Homo sapiens: one gene and its partner. The protein of the gene in region 1 binds, or shares a complex with, the protein of each later gene. Each region holds a gene or a part of one and is shown in the gene's direction. Other genes may lie near its edges.

Region 1 (7,330 bases):
TCTGCCTGTATTTTTTTCTGTGGGTGCCTGAGGGTGTCTGCCTCTGTATCTCCCCAAGGGCGTCTGGATGTCTCAGTGTCTGGTTGGAGCTCTTTCCTCTCTTAGGTGTATCTTCCCAGGTGTCTCCAAGTGTCTTAGAAGGCTTGTGTCTTGTGTATGTCTGGTCTGTCAGGGTGTCCGGCTCCTCCCGAGTGTGTCTGGGTGTGTTAGGCGGTGCGGCCGTCTCTTTCTGTGGGTGTGTGGGTGCCTCGGAGTGTCTGGGAGAATCTTCCTGATGGTGTCTGGCGTATCAGGTGTATTTCTGCACGTGTGTGCCAGTCCATCAGAGGATCTGGACTTACCCTTGAATGTGTTTAGGAATATCGGGATCCTCGGGGTCAGTTTCTCTTCCTGAGTCCGAGGGTCTGTGTGTACCCAGGAGCGTGGCAGTGCCCACCTGGCTGTGTCTCTTCCTGTCTGTCTCCTGTGTGTGTTTGTGTGTATCTAGCTGAGTGATTCTCCCTGAGTATGTCGGTATCTCCCCGCTATGTGTCCAAGCATCTCATCTGGCTGTGTCTTCCCCAGGGTCTAGGTGTATCTGGAGGGCTAATTGTTTCTTTCTTTTTTTCTTTTTTCTTTTTCTTTTTCTTTTTTTTTTTTGAGACGGAGTCTTGCTCTGTCGCCCAGGCTGGAGTGCAGTGGCGCGATCTCACTGCAAGCTCCGCCTCCTGGGTTCACGCCATTCTCCTGCCTCAGCCTCCCGAGTAGCTGGGACTACAGGCGCCTGCCACTACGCCCAGCTAATTTTTTGTATTTTTAGTAGAGACGGGGTTTCACCGTGTTAGCCAGGATGGTCTCGATCTCCTGACCTCATGATCTGCCCGCCTCGGCCTCCCAAAGTGCTGGGATTACAGGCGTGAGCCACCGCACCCGGCCTCTTTCTTTCTTTCTCTTTCTTTCTTTCTTTCTCTTTCTTTCTCTCTCTCTCTTTTTCTTTTCTTTCCTTCCTTCCTTTCTTTCTTTCTTTCCTTCCTTCTTTCTTTCTTTCTCTCTCTTTCTTTTTCTTTTCTTTCCCTCCTTCCTTCCTTCTTCCTTTCTTTTTTTTTTTCACCCAGTTTGGAGTGCAGTGGCACGATCTCGGCTCACTGCAACCTCCGCATCCCGGGTTCAAGTGATTCTCTGCCTCAACCTCCTGAGTAGCTGGGATTACAGGCATGTGCCCCTACACCCGGCTAATTTTTGTATTTTTTTTTTTTTAAGTAGAGATGAGGTTTTACCATGTTGGCCAGGCTGGTCTCAAACTCCTGACCTCAAGTGATCCACCCGCCTCAGCCTCCTAAAGTGTTGGGATTACAGGTGTGAGCCAACGCGCCTGGCCAGCTAATTGTCTCTGAGCATTTCTGAGTGTACCCATGGGTCCAGCTATGTCTCCTCCCTGTGTCTGGGTGTCTCCAAGGATCTGGCTATACCTCTTTGAGTCTCTAGGCTGTATCTGAGAGTGTGGCTTATGCCTGTAATTCCAGCACTTTGGAAGGCCGAGGCAGAGGATCGCTTGAACTCAGGAGTTTGAGACCAGCCTGATTAACACGATGAAACCCCATCTCTACCAAAAATACAAAAATTAGCCCAGTGTGGTAGCATGCCAGCTACTCTGCCTGTAGTCCCAGCTACTCAGGAGGCTGAGGTGGGAGGATCACTTGAGCCTGGGAGTCGCAGTGAGCTGAGATTGCGCCACTGCACTCCAACCTGGGTGACAGAGCGAGACCCTGTCTCAAAAAAAAAAGAAAAAAGACAGCATGGCTGGGCCTCTTCCTTCCCGCATCTGTCTCAGACGATCTGTCTGGATGTCCCCTGCGGGTGTCCCTGTGTCTCCTCTGCGAGTGTCTGGATCTGTCCATATTTGTCTGGGTATGTTTGAGAGTCGCTGTGTCTTCCCTGAGTAGGTCTGGGTGTGCCTGATGGCCTAACTGTGTCTTTTTCTGAGGCTTTCTGGTGTATCCAAAGTTCTGACCGTGTCTCCTGCTGTGCATCCCAGGGCATCTGAGGGCGTGACTGGGTCTCCCCAGAGTCTGGGCCTCCCTCCTAGGGCATGTGGTTAAATCCTTGCCTCTGCAGCCTCTTCCCTCCTGCAAAGAGCATGGTCCCCCCACCTGCATAGTTTGAGGAGTCCTCCGGGGTCAACTTCCCCATCTGACCCCCCCATGGCCCTGTCCCCAGACTGTGAAGCACCCCTGAAGAAGGAGGGTGGCCTCCCGGAAGGGCCGGTCCTCGAGGCTCTACTGTGTGCAGAGACGGGGGAGAAGAAGATTGAGCTGAAGGAGGAGGAGACCATTATGGACTGTCAGGTGGGCCCACCTCTGGGGGACCCCCGCTGCATGGCTTCGTCTCACCCCTGCCTGCCACCAGCCCGGGCCCTCACGTTCCTGCTCTGAAACCCCCCCGGTTTCTTCTGGCTGTTGGGCATCCCAGTCACCATCCTCCCAGACTTCATCTCTATTTGGAAGAACTCCTGACTTATACTCTCACCCCCAATCTCCACCTTTGCCCAGAGCCCCTCAAAAGCAGGTCAGTGGCCCCCACTTTCTTGACCCGTCTCCTTTCTCTATTGCCCAGAAACAGCAGTTGCTGGAGTTTCCGCATGACCTCGAGGTGGAAGACTTGGAGGATGACATTCCCAGGAGGAAGAACAGGGCCAAAGGAAAGGTATCACCCCAAGCTTCTCCTCTTCCCCGCTCCCCTCAATGACAGGTCTCATTCATGGAGCAGGTGCAGTGGTCCGCCCCTGCCACAGTCTGACCTCAGTCTGACCTCATTGAATCCCCAGAGCGGCCTGCAGGGGTGGGGGATTTTATACCCATTTTACAGATGAGGAAACTGAGGCTCATCTGTATTAAGCCATTTGCAAAGCAGAGATTATGCAGTGGGTTAGAGCTACCTTCATCCCCATGCCACAGAGGAAGAAGCTGAACCTTGGAGAGGTTCAAGGCCCCACAGCTAGGACATTTGTACAGCTGCAATTTGAATTTGCAAAAGACACTGTTTTCTCACTTTCTTTTTTCTTTTTTTTCTTTTTTTTGAGACGGAGTCTCGCTCTGTCACAGGCTAGAGTGCAGTGGCGCAATATCTGCTCACTGCAACCTCCGCCTCCCGGGTTCAAGCGATTCTCCTGCCTCAGCCTCCCGAGTAGCTGGGACTACAGGCACGCGCCACCATGCCCAGCTAATTTTTCTATTTTTAGTAGAGACGGGGCTTCACCATGTTGGCCAAGGTGGTCTCGATCTCTTGACCTCGTGATCCGCCTGCCTCGGCCTCCCAAAGTGCTGGGATTACAGGTGTGAGCCACCACGCCTGGCCTGTTTTCTCACTTTCTTGGCCCCTCACTCCTGACTCTCCCCACAGGCATATGGCATCGGGGGTCTCCGGAAACGCCAGGACACCGCTTCCCTGGAGGACCGAGACAAGCCGTATGTCTGTGATAGTGAGTCCTTCTGAAGAGGGGGAAAGGCAGAGAGAGGGGTGCCCAGAGACTCCCCACCTCGTGGCCCTCTCCCTCCCGTTCCAGACCCGGGTTGGGAGGCTGCTCAGGTCTCTGGCTGAGGGGGGAGGTGTGATCCTGGAGGCCAGGGTGGAGGCGGCAGGGGCCCGGAGGGGCTGACAGGCCCTCCTGGCTCGCTCGCTCCCCAGTCTGTGGGAAACGGTATAAGAACCGGCCGGGGCTCAGCTACCACTACACCCACACCCACCTGGCCGAGGAGGAGGGGGAGGAGAACGCCGAACGCCACGCCCTGCCCTTCCACCGGAAAAACAACCATAAACGTGAGCTGGCAGGCCAGGTGGGGGTGGCCAGGGGCCCTGGGAGTGGGGAAGAGGAGCCCAGCTGGGGGTGGGGGTGGGGGGGCATTAGACATTTCTGGAAAATCTCCAGCTCAGCCGTTCCCTCCCCCCACCGACCATGGGGATGCTGGCTCCGGGGTTGCCATGGCAACCAACCATCGCTCCTTCGCTCCTGGCCGGGCGTAATATTTCTGGGTCTGATTTATTGTTTCAATTAGAGCTTGGGGAGGGGGGGTGATAGATGGCTCCCCTCCCGCCCTGCCTTCCCTTTCTCCTTTCTCTGCTAAGCTTTGGTCAAGGGGCAGGGTCTGTGGCCTGGGAGCCCTTGGCTTCCGCCCTTGCCAATCCCATGCCAGTTCTGACAGCTGAAGGATGGGGGAGGGGAGGAGGGTTTGGGAGAGGCAGTAGGGAGACACTGTCTTCCCACCTATCTCTCAGAGGCAGAGGCTGAGTGTCTTCACCCCTGGCCACTACACACCCACGCACCTCAGTGTTCGGAGTTTTTCTTCCGAGTGTCTGTTTCCATACCAGATCTTGGCTGGGGTACTCGCTGAATTTGTTAGATACAAATTACTGAGGGTGCAGTTGGGAGTGGCTGGCTGGGAGACATGTATGTGAGAAGGGAGGCAGGGAGCCCTTCCTCAAGCTGTCTACCAAGTTTTGACCCAATAAAGAGGACATGTCAGTTGTCTCAAGGAGTTGGGAATCCTGGCTGGGTGCAGTGGCTCACGCTTATAATCCCGCCACTTTGTGGCAGTGGCCGAGGTGGGAGGATCACTGGAGGCCAGGAGTTGGAGACCAGCCTGGGCAACATACCAAGACCCTGCCTTTATTTTTAATTGAAAAAAAAATTTAAAAAGGCAGAGTTGGGAGTCCCGATGAGAACTGTTTTCACCTCTCCCCACAGCTTGGGGTAGCTACTCACTCTTCCCAGCTCCCCACGCCTGGACTAAGAGGTCCATCCTTGGGGCTGAGGCTGGGGGCAGGGTGGAGCCTTGCCTGTGGTGAGAGTCCCTCTCTCTGTCCCCCCTACCCCAGAGTTTTACAAAGAATTGGCCTGGGTCCCTGAGGCACAAAGGAAACACACAGGTACGGATGCCTCCTTCTGCTCCTAAAGTCTGCAGCCACCTTTGCGGGGTGCCCTTGCCTGCCCCGTGCCAATGCCTGTCTGCTGTCTTGCAGCCAAGAAGGCGCCCGACGGCACTGTCATCCCCAACGGCTACTGTGACTTCTGCCTGGGGGGCTCCAAGAAGACGGGGTGTCCCGAGGACCTCATCTCCTGTGCGGACTGTGGGCGATCAGGTGATGCTCCCCACCTGAGGTTTCTGGGGGCCGGGTGCAGAGGACATTCAGGAGTGCAGACCTGGAGGGAGGGAGGCAAGGCGGTGAGGACCGAGGGGACCCGGAGCATGTAGGGGATACTGTGGATAACCAGAGCTAGCGAGGCTGATGCAACTGCTGAGGATTGTGGGAATTGGGTCGGATCAGTGAGGCTTTAGGGATAATGGGATGTGGCTCTCATGGCACTGTGGGTAGCTGCCTGTGCTTAGCATGGCATCAAGAGTAGTGAGAGGCCAGGTGTGGTGGCTCACGCCTGTAATCCCAGCACTTTGGGAGGCAGAGGTGGGAGGATCACTTGAGGCCAGGAATTTGAGACCAGCCTGAGCAACATAGCAAGACCCCCATCTCTACAAAAAATTTAAAAATTATCCAGGTGTGTTGTTGTGCACCTGTAATCCCAGCAACTCAGGAGGCTGAGGCCGGAGGCTCCCTTGAGCCCAGGAGTTTGAGACCAGCCTGGGCAACATAGTGAGATCCCATCTATATATAAAAAAAGTTAGCTGGGCATGGTGTTGCACCCCATTAGCCCCAGCTACTCGGGAGGCTGAAGTGGGAGGCTCGCTTGAGCCCAGAAGGTTTTTGTTTTGTTTTGTTTTGTTTTGTTTTTTGAGACAGAGTCTCCCTCTGTCACCCAGGCTGGAGTGCATTGGCATGATCTTGGCTCACTGCAACCTCCGCCTCCTGGGTTCAAGTGATTCTTGTGCTTCAGCCTCCCGAGTAGCTAGGATTACAGGCACCCGCCACCATGCCTGGCTAATTTTTAATATTTTTAGTAGAGACGGGGGTTTCACCATGTTGGCCAGGCTGGTCTCAAACTCCTGACCTCAGGTGATCTGCCTGCCTTGACCTCCCAAAGTGCTGGGATTACAGGCGTGAGCCACCGCAGCACCCAGCCCCTTGAATCTGGGAGTTTTTGACTAGCCAGGGCAACATAATGAGAGCCCATCTATTAAAAAAAAAATAGGCCAGGCTGGGTGATGTGGCTCACATCTGTAATCCCAGCACTTTGGGAGGCTGGGGCGAGCAGATCATGAGGTCAAGAGATCAAGACCATCCTGGCCAACATGGTGAAACCCCATCTCTATAAAAATACAAAATTTAGCTGGGTGTGGTGGTGCGTGCCTGTAGTTCCAGCTACTCCGGAGGCTGAGGCAGGAGAATCGCTTGAACCCGGGGCTCAGAGGTTGCCATGAGCCAAGATTGCACCACTGCACTCCACCCTGGGTATCAGAGCAAGACTCCGTCTCAAAAAAAAAAAAAAAAAAAAAAGGCTGGGCATAGTTTCGCACCCCATTAGTCCCAGCTACTCGGGAGGCTGAGGTGGGAGGATCGCTGGAGCCTGGGAGGTCAAGGCTGCAGAGTGCACTGTGATGGTGCCACTATGCTGCAGCCTGGGCAACAGAGTGAGACCTTGTTTCAAAAACCAAAACAAGACAAAAGGAGTAGCAAGAGACAGGGGCCAAGGCATGGCAGGTAGTGGGCTGTGTGGTGTGAGTGACGGACACCACCACCTGGGCACCGGTAGCAGGATGAGCTCGCCATAGAGTTGTGGTTAACAGAATGTGGTTTCCCATGGTGGGCTTGTGGGCAATATAGACTCTGGTTGCCTCAGCACAGTAGGTCATGAATTGTGGTTGTCGTGGCATCATGGGTAGTGAAATATGGTTGTCATGGCAACTCAGTATAATGGAATGTAGTTGTGATGGCACCGGGGCCGTGGTTGCAGGGGGCGGGCGCCATGGGTCGTGGCTGCAGGTAGCGGCTGCGGGTGTCTCTGCAGCGGGGCTGTGGAATGACTAAGCCTGGCGCTGCACAGTGCTGTGATGTGAGTAACAGTTTTGTTGCTGGGGCACCAAGTGGAATGGACTTCAGTTGCATGAAACCGAAGTGTGGGGACCCCGTTGTGGAAGGTGGTTGCCATGGCATTGTGGCTGGGAGAGTGTGGTTGCCACGTTGCTGTGGTTAACAGGACCCCTGGCCGTTCTGCTGTGGGTAATGGAAAGTGGCTGTCTCAGCACGGTGGTTAACAGAATGTGGTTGCCACGGTGTTGTGGGTGGTAGAAAGTGGTTGGCACAGCACTGTGGGTAATGGAATGCGGTTGCCATGGCGTTCTGGGGAGCAGAGTGTGGTTGCCATGGTGGTTGTGGTAGGAGACTGTGGTGGCCGGGGGACTGC
Region 2 (7,854 bases), on another chromosome or scaffold:
AGATGCTCCTTGTGGGTTATGCTTTGGCAGGGAAACCTTTTGGCATGTCCGGTCCTTGAGAAAGAGGGTCACCTATACTACACAGAGTACAGCTTGACACAGGTGTCACCTGAGGGCCCAAGAAGATGCCAGGGAGAGCTCACTGAAATTTAAGTCTTAGAGTTACATGTTGCAATGTAACTTCAAGTTAGAGAGAGAAAAAAATTCTTTATATTTAACTTGGGCATTTTTAGGGGAATGGGTTAATAAGCAGATTCCTCAATGAAATTATGTCATTTTGGTATGAAAAGCATATAACCAAGTCCTTTGGCCCTGACCAAGACAATTAGATGACTGTCATAAACCCTTAAAGGTGCTCACTGACTCGCATAATGAATTAGAAACCAAGTCATCAGGTATAAGCAAGGTGAACTAAAAACGAGGAATGCGCTCCATTAATGCACGAGTTATTGTTATTTGGGACTTACTGTTTTTGAAACATAGTCTTATTCTCAAAGTTTACCTGTACTATAAAGCAATTAATCATTATCTGTGAGAGACCTAGAAGGCCTTCAGGTAAGTTCCTGAAACTTTTCTAGAAAACTGAGGTGATTCAACTGCCAAGTGACTTATTTGTATACCTGATTATATATGCTTACTACCCAAATATTTATTTTGAGGAACTAGAGTGGAGTTACCTATGCAGGACCTTTAGCCAGCCAGGCAGCATGTTATCACTAAGAACGGCCACAAAGATGACTACATGATGTGATGTAGAATACTGAAAAACACTGGTAGGTGCTCAGTAAGTGATTTTCACTAATGGCAAAATGATTGAGGACAGTACTGGAAATAAAAGCAGCCATTGAACACACATTTGTCTAAAAGTTACAAGAAATTTATAAATGAGGCTGTGATAAAGTCATTCAAAAGCGGACAGTCCAGGATAAAATAAAAAGTACAATGTATTAAAATGTAGTAAGGTGTTTCTTAATGTATTTCACTGGTGTTACTATGTTTCTAAGGAATTTGGAGAGAAACTGTAGTAGCCTGATGTTAAACTTAAGGTTCTGGAAGTCCAGACTCCACAGTGGTGGGTTCCAGGTGTCAAGTCGGAGTTGTGTCAGCGGGAGGATTAGGGTCAGCTGCCCGCTAATGGCAGCCAGCAAGCCTCCGCTGCAGGAAATGCTGCGGGATGGGGAAGGTCTGAGCTTGCTTCTTTACTGGCCAAATCCCATGTGACATTGAGGGGCAGACCTTAGTAGGTATGAGTGATTGTTAATTGTTTATCTCCCCTATGAAGGACAGGACCAAGGTAATTATCTTTCATTTTCAAGGCATGGCACAAGGTAGACTCTAGGTAAATTTGTTGAATGACTACATGCAGTGTATCTCCATCCAGGTTTATTATCCCCACAATAATTTTCTTAGTAAGTTTATTAGTGCTACCGTCTGCCATAGTTCCCAAATTTGAACTATTTTTTTTGCCTAGGCTTCTTTTTTTTTTTCAAATCCTACCTAATTGATTTGCACAGTTGTTTCAAATCAAATGCTACATCCCATATCTTGCAGTGACGCAGTTATTCACTGCTAACGTCTAAATCGGAGAAGTGAAAAGGACAATTGTTTCGTGCTTTCTTAAGTCCCTGACCAAGATCAGTAGGGAAATCCCATTAGCTCTATTCATCGCATTTCTCATAAATCTAAAAGGAAAGCAAGTATCCAAAGCTTTATTCTTTAATAGTTCTTATTTGTAAAACCTTGACAGGGCTTTATTCTAAATTGCTTCCAAATTACATAAAGAATAGTTAGAAATATGATGGGCAGTGAATCGTGATAGTTTCAGTCATCGAATAAATAAGTAGAACAGTAAAAGGGGACTAATCTGAAAGCAAACAGAGTATGATGGGCTACGATGAGGCAAAAAGAACAGAACTGTGGAATTCTTAAACTACCATCTGGCTCAATCCCCTTTAAGTGGCCAAGTTGAAGAGCCTTTTATTCAGTGCCCTAAAACTTATTCAAAAGGCGCAGTATTTGAATATTAATATTTCCATACAGTAAAAAAAAAAGTCTTTTGTAACCAAAAAGGAATGTTTAACAAAATAATGGGTAATCCTCTGGCTAAACATGAGGGCGTGGGGAGCACCCTGTGGGTGGGAGGTCGGCTGGAACCCAGGGTGGCTGCGGGCAGCCTCCGGGCCTTCCCCTCATGGCTTCTTTGTGGTTAGGGTAACTTATTAAAGTTGTCATTGTGGTTTGAAATTTAGGCAAGAGGTGTAAAATTAAGGAATTCATTAGGAAAAATGAGCGCAGTGATTTCTAGTACCTTATTTCATCAAAAAGAAACAATAAGGTAGAATTGCCATATGAGATAGTTGAGGCAAGGAACACAATGGAAATTTGAACCTGTGGTTGAAATTGTGCTTTTGTGTAATGGGAACCTATTTCATCACTTTGTAACAGACCCCTGACAATTGGTGTTTTGTTTGTTAAGCCCTGGATGTTTAAATGAAACTAAACAGGCTTTTATTTTGTTTTCCTGAGGTGTGTATGAAAAGTTGAGCAAATTCGAGTGCACTTCTTATCTTCAGCAAAGATGCTTTAGAAAGGTATTTTAGCATTCTCCGTGGTTTAAAAGACAAAACCAAGTCCTGCCGGCTTTGTGTTGTGCTTCTCCTACAGGCTGCAGTGCCTTCTGTCTGCTTTAGGGTGTGGCATCTGCCATTGGGGAGGAAAAACTGGCATGTGTCGCCTTTTATAGCAGACTGATTTCATTGTGCTGGGGGCCTCTATTTTATAGTCTCTTAGTTCCAATCTTCTAGTTGACTTGCTGAAGCAAATGGAATTAAAAGAGATTTTGACTTCTCTACTAATTTTTTTTTAGTTTCACGATTTGCCAATATGAAAAAATATTTTAAGGAAAAGGGCCATAGCTGAACTTGGTGACTCATTTTCCCTTTTAGGATTAGTTGTGAAAATAAGCCACAACATATGGCTACACTTGTATGAACTGACTTTGATATATTTTATCAATTTGAAAAAATGCACTTTTAGGATGATGTGTACATACTTAGTTTGACTATGTCTAAAAGCATAAATATGTAATTGATTTTAGAATATATGTATATACACACAAAACAGACATATATTTATATTTGCATATGAAAAACTAAAAATTCAACTTCTGTGGTGTAATGCGTATAATTAGTATGTATTTGAATATATAAAGGGAGAAAATCCAGGAAAAAATGTCAAAAAGGCACACTAACAAAGATGTAGTATTCTCTTGGCAAAAACTGATGAATGATTTGGCACGAATTCATCTTATGGTTCTGTTATTCTCTCTAACACACGATGATATATCCCGTTTTCCAGTTGTTTGCGTAGAATTGCAATTTGTTGTTTCTACACTCTATAATGACCCTTGGGTGTGCACCTGATTCCCTCCCCCCGACCCCAATTAGTCACCAGTTTTCCCATCAATCCTTTTCTATTTAGTCATGTAACATATTTACACTTGGTCAAACAAATAACCACTGCTGCAGTGGAAATGAACTAAAATAGTTTTTATGGAAAGCTGAAGAATGAAATAATTTTGGAAAACTATACTCTACCAAAACCGTAAGTATTGTTTCTGCCAGGTTTTAAATGCTTTCTCTCAATGAAAACTGAGTCCACACTAGTACAAGTGGGTCATTGCCTAAGGTTAAGAAGTCTTGCTTTTTAAAATGTTACTAGGGGACAATGCACATATTGAAAACATTAATAACAATGCAAATATTAAAAACATTATAAAATGTTAATAGACACCAATTTTTAAGAGAACAAAGTATGGAACATTTCTACATTAGGACTAGAGTTGACTGTTTTATATTATTATTGAAGTTATATTTATTAAATATAATGTCTATAATATTTTAGTTTCGTTCCACATCTCTTTGAAATGAATGTATATCGAGAGGGTTAACTGTGCACACGAAGCTCTGAAACATGATGAAAGGTGTCATATAGATTTATGAAGATACGAGCTAACCCATAGCTGTCGCTGTTCTGGCACCAAGAGTTAAATGTTCATGTGAAAGTTGGCGCAGAAAACACCACTGTACATACTCCACAGAGGACATCCAAGTGCATGTAAGAAAAATGCTCCTTTGGGAATACGTGGACATATTCCTTTGGAAATACACTGACAAACCTACATACGTGTTTAAGGTGCCTTCAAAAAGAGTTATGTAAACATTCTCTTTGGGGCGGGTGCAGTCAGTCATAAGCATTTATTGAGTACCTACTGGGTACAGGCCATAGGGCTCTCTGACCGGGGCTAACCTTCATTTCAAATCTTTCCTAATTTTGCAGTTGGAAGAAGTTGTGGGAATTACGCCGATGGCCCGAAATCAAGGCAGAGGCGAACGTTCTGAAAATTACATAACTCCTGGGAGAGACCGTGCTTTTGCAGATTGCCTAAATATTTTCTTTCTCCGTCGGCTCCTTGTAACCTCTGAGGCCAATAGACAACTTTGTTTCCCAGCCCTTCTCCCTCTTTTGTCTGCTCGTCAGACTCGTTTTCCACCTTTGTATCGTTCCTTTTAGACGTGAAAACAAACATGCGAACGCCCGGTTGGCAAGGAGACAGCGGCCCGGGGGGAAAGTGCAGGTTCCGGCCGCCCCACGCCGCCGCGCTCCGAGCGGCCGCCGAGCCGCCCCGGCCCCGGCCCCGGCCCCAGCCTTAGCCCAAGCCCGGCTGGGTCCCGCGAGGCTGCGCCGGGGCGGGCGGCGGCGGCCCGGGGACGAGTCCAGTCCGCGTTTTGCGAGTGCGCGGGAGTAATGCGAGCGAAGTGGATAATAGTTGCTCGAGCTCGCCCGCTGCCTCTCAAGCCATGCTGGGCCCGATAGGCTCAGCTAGTCGTGTATTTACCCATATCCGGGCTAGAGAGGAAAAGAGAAAAGTTTCATTTAAACCTGAACTAAAAACTTTCACCATGAAAGCACACAGCAGGAGCAGGCCCAGAGCGTAAGGCGTGCCCGGCCCGGCGCTCCGGCGGGGCCTGCGGAGGGGGAGGGGGTCGCGGCTTCCCGGCGGGCCGCGTGGATGCGCACAGGAGGGGCCGCGGCCTGAAAAGTGGGGGTTATTGTCTCCCCCCGCCCCCCGCCCGGCCTCGCCACGCCGCGGCGATCATGGCCGCGCGGGCAGCAGCGGCGGCGGCGGCGGCGGCGGCGCGGGCGCGGGCGCGGGCAGGCAGCGGCGAACGGCGGGCGCCCCCCGGGCCGCGGCCGGCGCCCGGAGCCCGGGACCTGGAGGCGGGGGCGCGCGGCGCGGCGGCGGCGGCGGCGGCACCGGGACCCATGCTGGGGGGCGGCGGCGACGGCGGCGGCGGCCTGAACAGTGTGCACCACCACCCCCTGCTCCCCCGTCACGAACTCAACATGGCCCATAACGCGGGCGCCGCGGCCGCCGCCGGCACCCACAGCGCCAAGAGCGGCGGCTCCGAGGCGGCTCTCAAGGAGGGTGGAAGCGCCGCCGCGCTGTCCTCCTCCTCCTCCTCCTCCGCGGCGGCAGCGGCGGCATCCTCTTCCTCCTCGTCGGGCCCGGGCTCGGCCATGGAGACGGGGCTGCTCCCCAACCACAAACTGAAAACCGTTGGCGAAGCCCCCGCCGCGCCGCCCCACCAGCAGCACCACCACCACCACCATGCCCACCACCACCACCACCATGCCCACCACCTCCACCACCACCACGCACTACAGCAGCAGCTAAACCAGTTCCAGCAGCAGCAGCAGCAGCAGCAACAGCAGCAGCAGCAGCAGCAGCAACAGCAACATCCCATTTCCAACAACAACAGCTTGGGCGGCGCGGGCGGCGGCGCGCCTCAGCCCGGCCCCGACATGGAGCAGCCGCAACATGGAGGCGCCAAGGACAGTGCTGCGGGCGGCCAGGCCGACCCCCCGGGCCCGCCGCTGCTGAGCAAGCCGGGCGACGAGGACGACGCGCCGCCCAAGATGGGGGAGCCGGCGGGCGGCCGCTACGAGCACCCGGGCTTGGGCGCCCTGGGCACGCAGCAGCCGCCGGTCGCCGTGCCCGGGGGCGGCGGCGGCCCGGCGGCCGTCCCGGAGTTTAATAATTACTATGGCAGCGCTGCCCCTGCGAGCGGCGGCCCCGGCGGCCGCGCTGGGCCTTGCTTTGATCAACATGGCGGACAACAAAGCCCCGGGATGGGGATGATGCACTCCGCCTCCGCCGCCGCCGCCGGGGCCCCCGGCAGCATGGACCCCCTGCAGAACTCCCACGAAGGGTACCCCAACAGCCAGTGCAACCATTATCCGGGCTACAGCCGGCCCGGCGCGGGCGGCGGCGGCGGCGGCGGCGGCGGAGGAGGAGGAGGCAGCGGAGGAGGAGGAGGAGGAGGAGGAGCAGGAGCAGGAGGAGCAGGAGCGGGAGCTGTGGCGGCGGCGGCCGCGGCGGCGGCGGCAGCAGCAGGAGGCGGCGGCGGCGGCGGCTATGGGGGCTCGTCCGCGGGGTACGGGGTGCTGAGCTCCCCCCGGCAGCAGGGCGGCGGCATGATGATGGGCCCCGGGGGCGGCGGGGCCGCGAGCCTCAGCAAGGCGGCCGCCGGCTCGGCGGCGGGGGGCTTCCAGCGCTTCGCCGGCCAGAACCAGCACCCGTCGGGGGCCACCCCGACCCTCAATCAGCTGCTCACCTCGCCCAGCCCCATGATGCGGAGCTACGGCGGCAGCTACCCCGAGTACAGCAGCCCCAGCGCGCCGCCGCCGCCGCCGTCGCAGCCCCAGTCCCAGGCGGCGGCGGCGGGGGCGGCGGCGGGCGGCCAGCAGGCGGCCGCGGGCATGGGCTTGGGCAAGGACATGGGCGCCCAGTACGCCGCTGCCAGCCCGGCCTGGGCGGCCGCGCAACAAAGGAGTCACCCGGCGATGAGCCCCGGCACCCCCGGACCGACCATGGGCAGATCCCAGGTAACCCTCGCGCCAGCCGGGCCTGCTTCCGCCCGGCGGCCTCGCCGCGCCGCGAGCCTGAGTTTCTTTCTTTGCCGCGTACTTTTCCCCGTCTTCCCGCGGGGGCGGCGGGGGCGCGGCGCCCAAAGCCATCTTGACGGGCGGCCGCCTCCCGCCGCGGTCGGGGCGCCCCGGGGGCCGGCGCGCTGTCCAGGCCTGGGAGGGCTTCGCCGGGCCGGGCCGGGCCGGGTGGCTTCTACCCCGCCGGCCCGCACCCGCGTCCCCCCCCTCCCCCAGGCCCGGGAACGCGAAGCGAGATCCCGAGGCGCCACCCGCGCGGTCGCCGTTTGGGGCGGCGGGGACCGTTCGGGTGCTTTTGTAACAAATAGGCTCTCCCGGCCAGGACGGCTGGGGCGAAGAGCCACCCGATCGGTTCTGGGAGCGCCCACAATGTGCTTTAACGGGGGAAAGAATGAGGAACTTTCTCACACCTTTAGCCACAGCACGTTCCCTCTTGGCTTCCGAGGTCCAGGCAGGGAAAATAGGTTAGCTTTGTGACAAGCGAGTGGGTTTTTCCTACTTAGGGAGAGCCATTCAGAGACACTCGGTGCGGGCTTCGAGCTCGAACGTTTGCTGGTAGGAATAATAACAAAATTTACAACGACATGGAGGTGCAATATTGTAAAATACATCGATTCGTTCCTTAGAATAGCCAGGGAAATCCATTATTGGGCTTACGGGCTGCTTGCAGGGAGTCACCTTCAACAGGCAGGCTATGTGAAAGGAGCACGTTCCGGATCAATTGAACTTATTTTGATCATGGATTAGGCATGCATTTTATTCAGCAAATCCAGTAAGATAGCAGACCAGTGAAAATTGATCTTTTGGGATCGTATTTATTTGGATTTTCTTTATTTTGCTGTCACC

Evidence for each region.
Region 2: DPF1 (region 1) and ARID1B share a complex: the UniProt entries of both Homo sapiens proteins name them as parts of the neuron-specific chromatin remodeling complex.

What each region holds. Positions count from the first base shown.
Region 1 is NC_000019.10:38,213,925-38,221,254, reverse strand, and holds part of DPF1 (zinc finger protein neuro-d4), read left to right. Parts: intron 1-2,196; coding exon 2,197-2,324; intron 2,325-2,592; coding exon 2,593-2,682; intron 2,683-3,378; coding exon 3,379-3,457; intron 3,458-3,663; coding exon 3,664-3,795; intron 3,796-4,851; coding exon 4,852-4,902; intron 4,903-4,995; coding exon 4,996-5,115; intron 5,116-7,330. UniProt on the Homo sapiens protein: May have an important role in developing neurons by participating in regulation of cell survival, possibly as a neurospecific transcription factor. Belongs to the neuron-specific chromatin remodeling complex (nBAF complex).
Region 2 is NC_000006.12:156,772,524-156,780,377, forward strand, and holds the start of ARID1B (AT-rich interactive domain-containing protein 1B), read left to right. Parts: upstream 1-4,854; 5' UTR 4,855-5,157; coding exon 5,158-6,948; intron 6,949-7,154; exon of another isoform or gene 7,155-7,208; intron 7,209-7,854. UniProt on the Homo sapiens protein: Involved in transcriptional activation and repression of select genes by chromatin remodeling (alteration of DNA-nucleosome topology).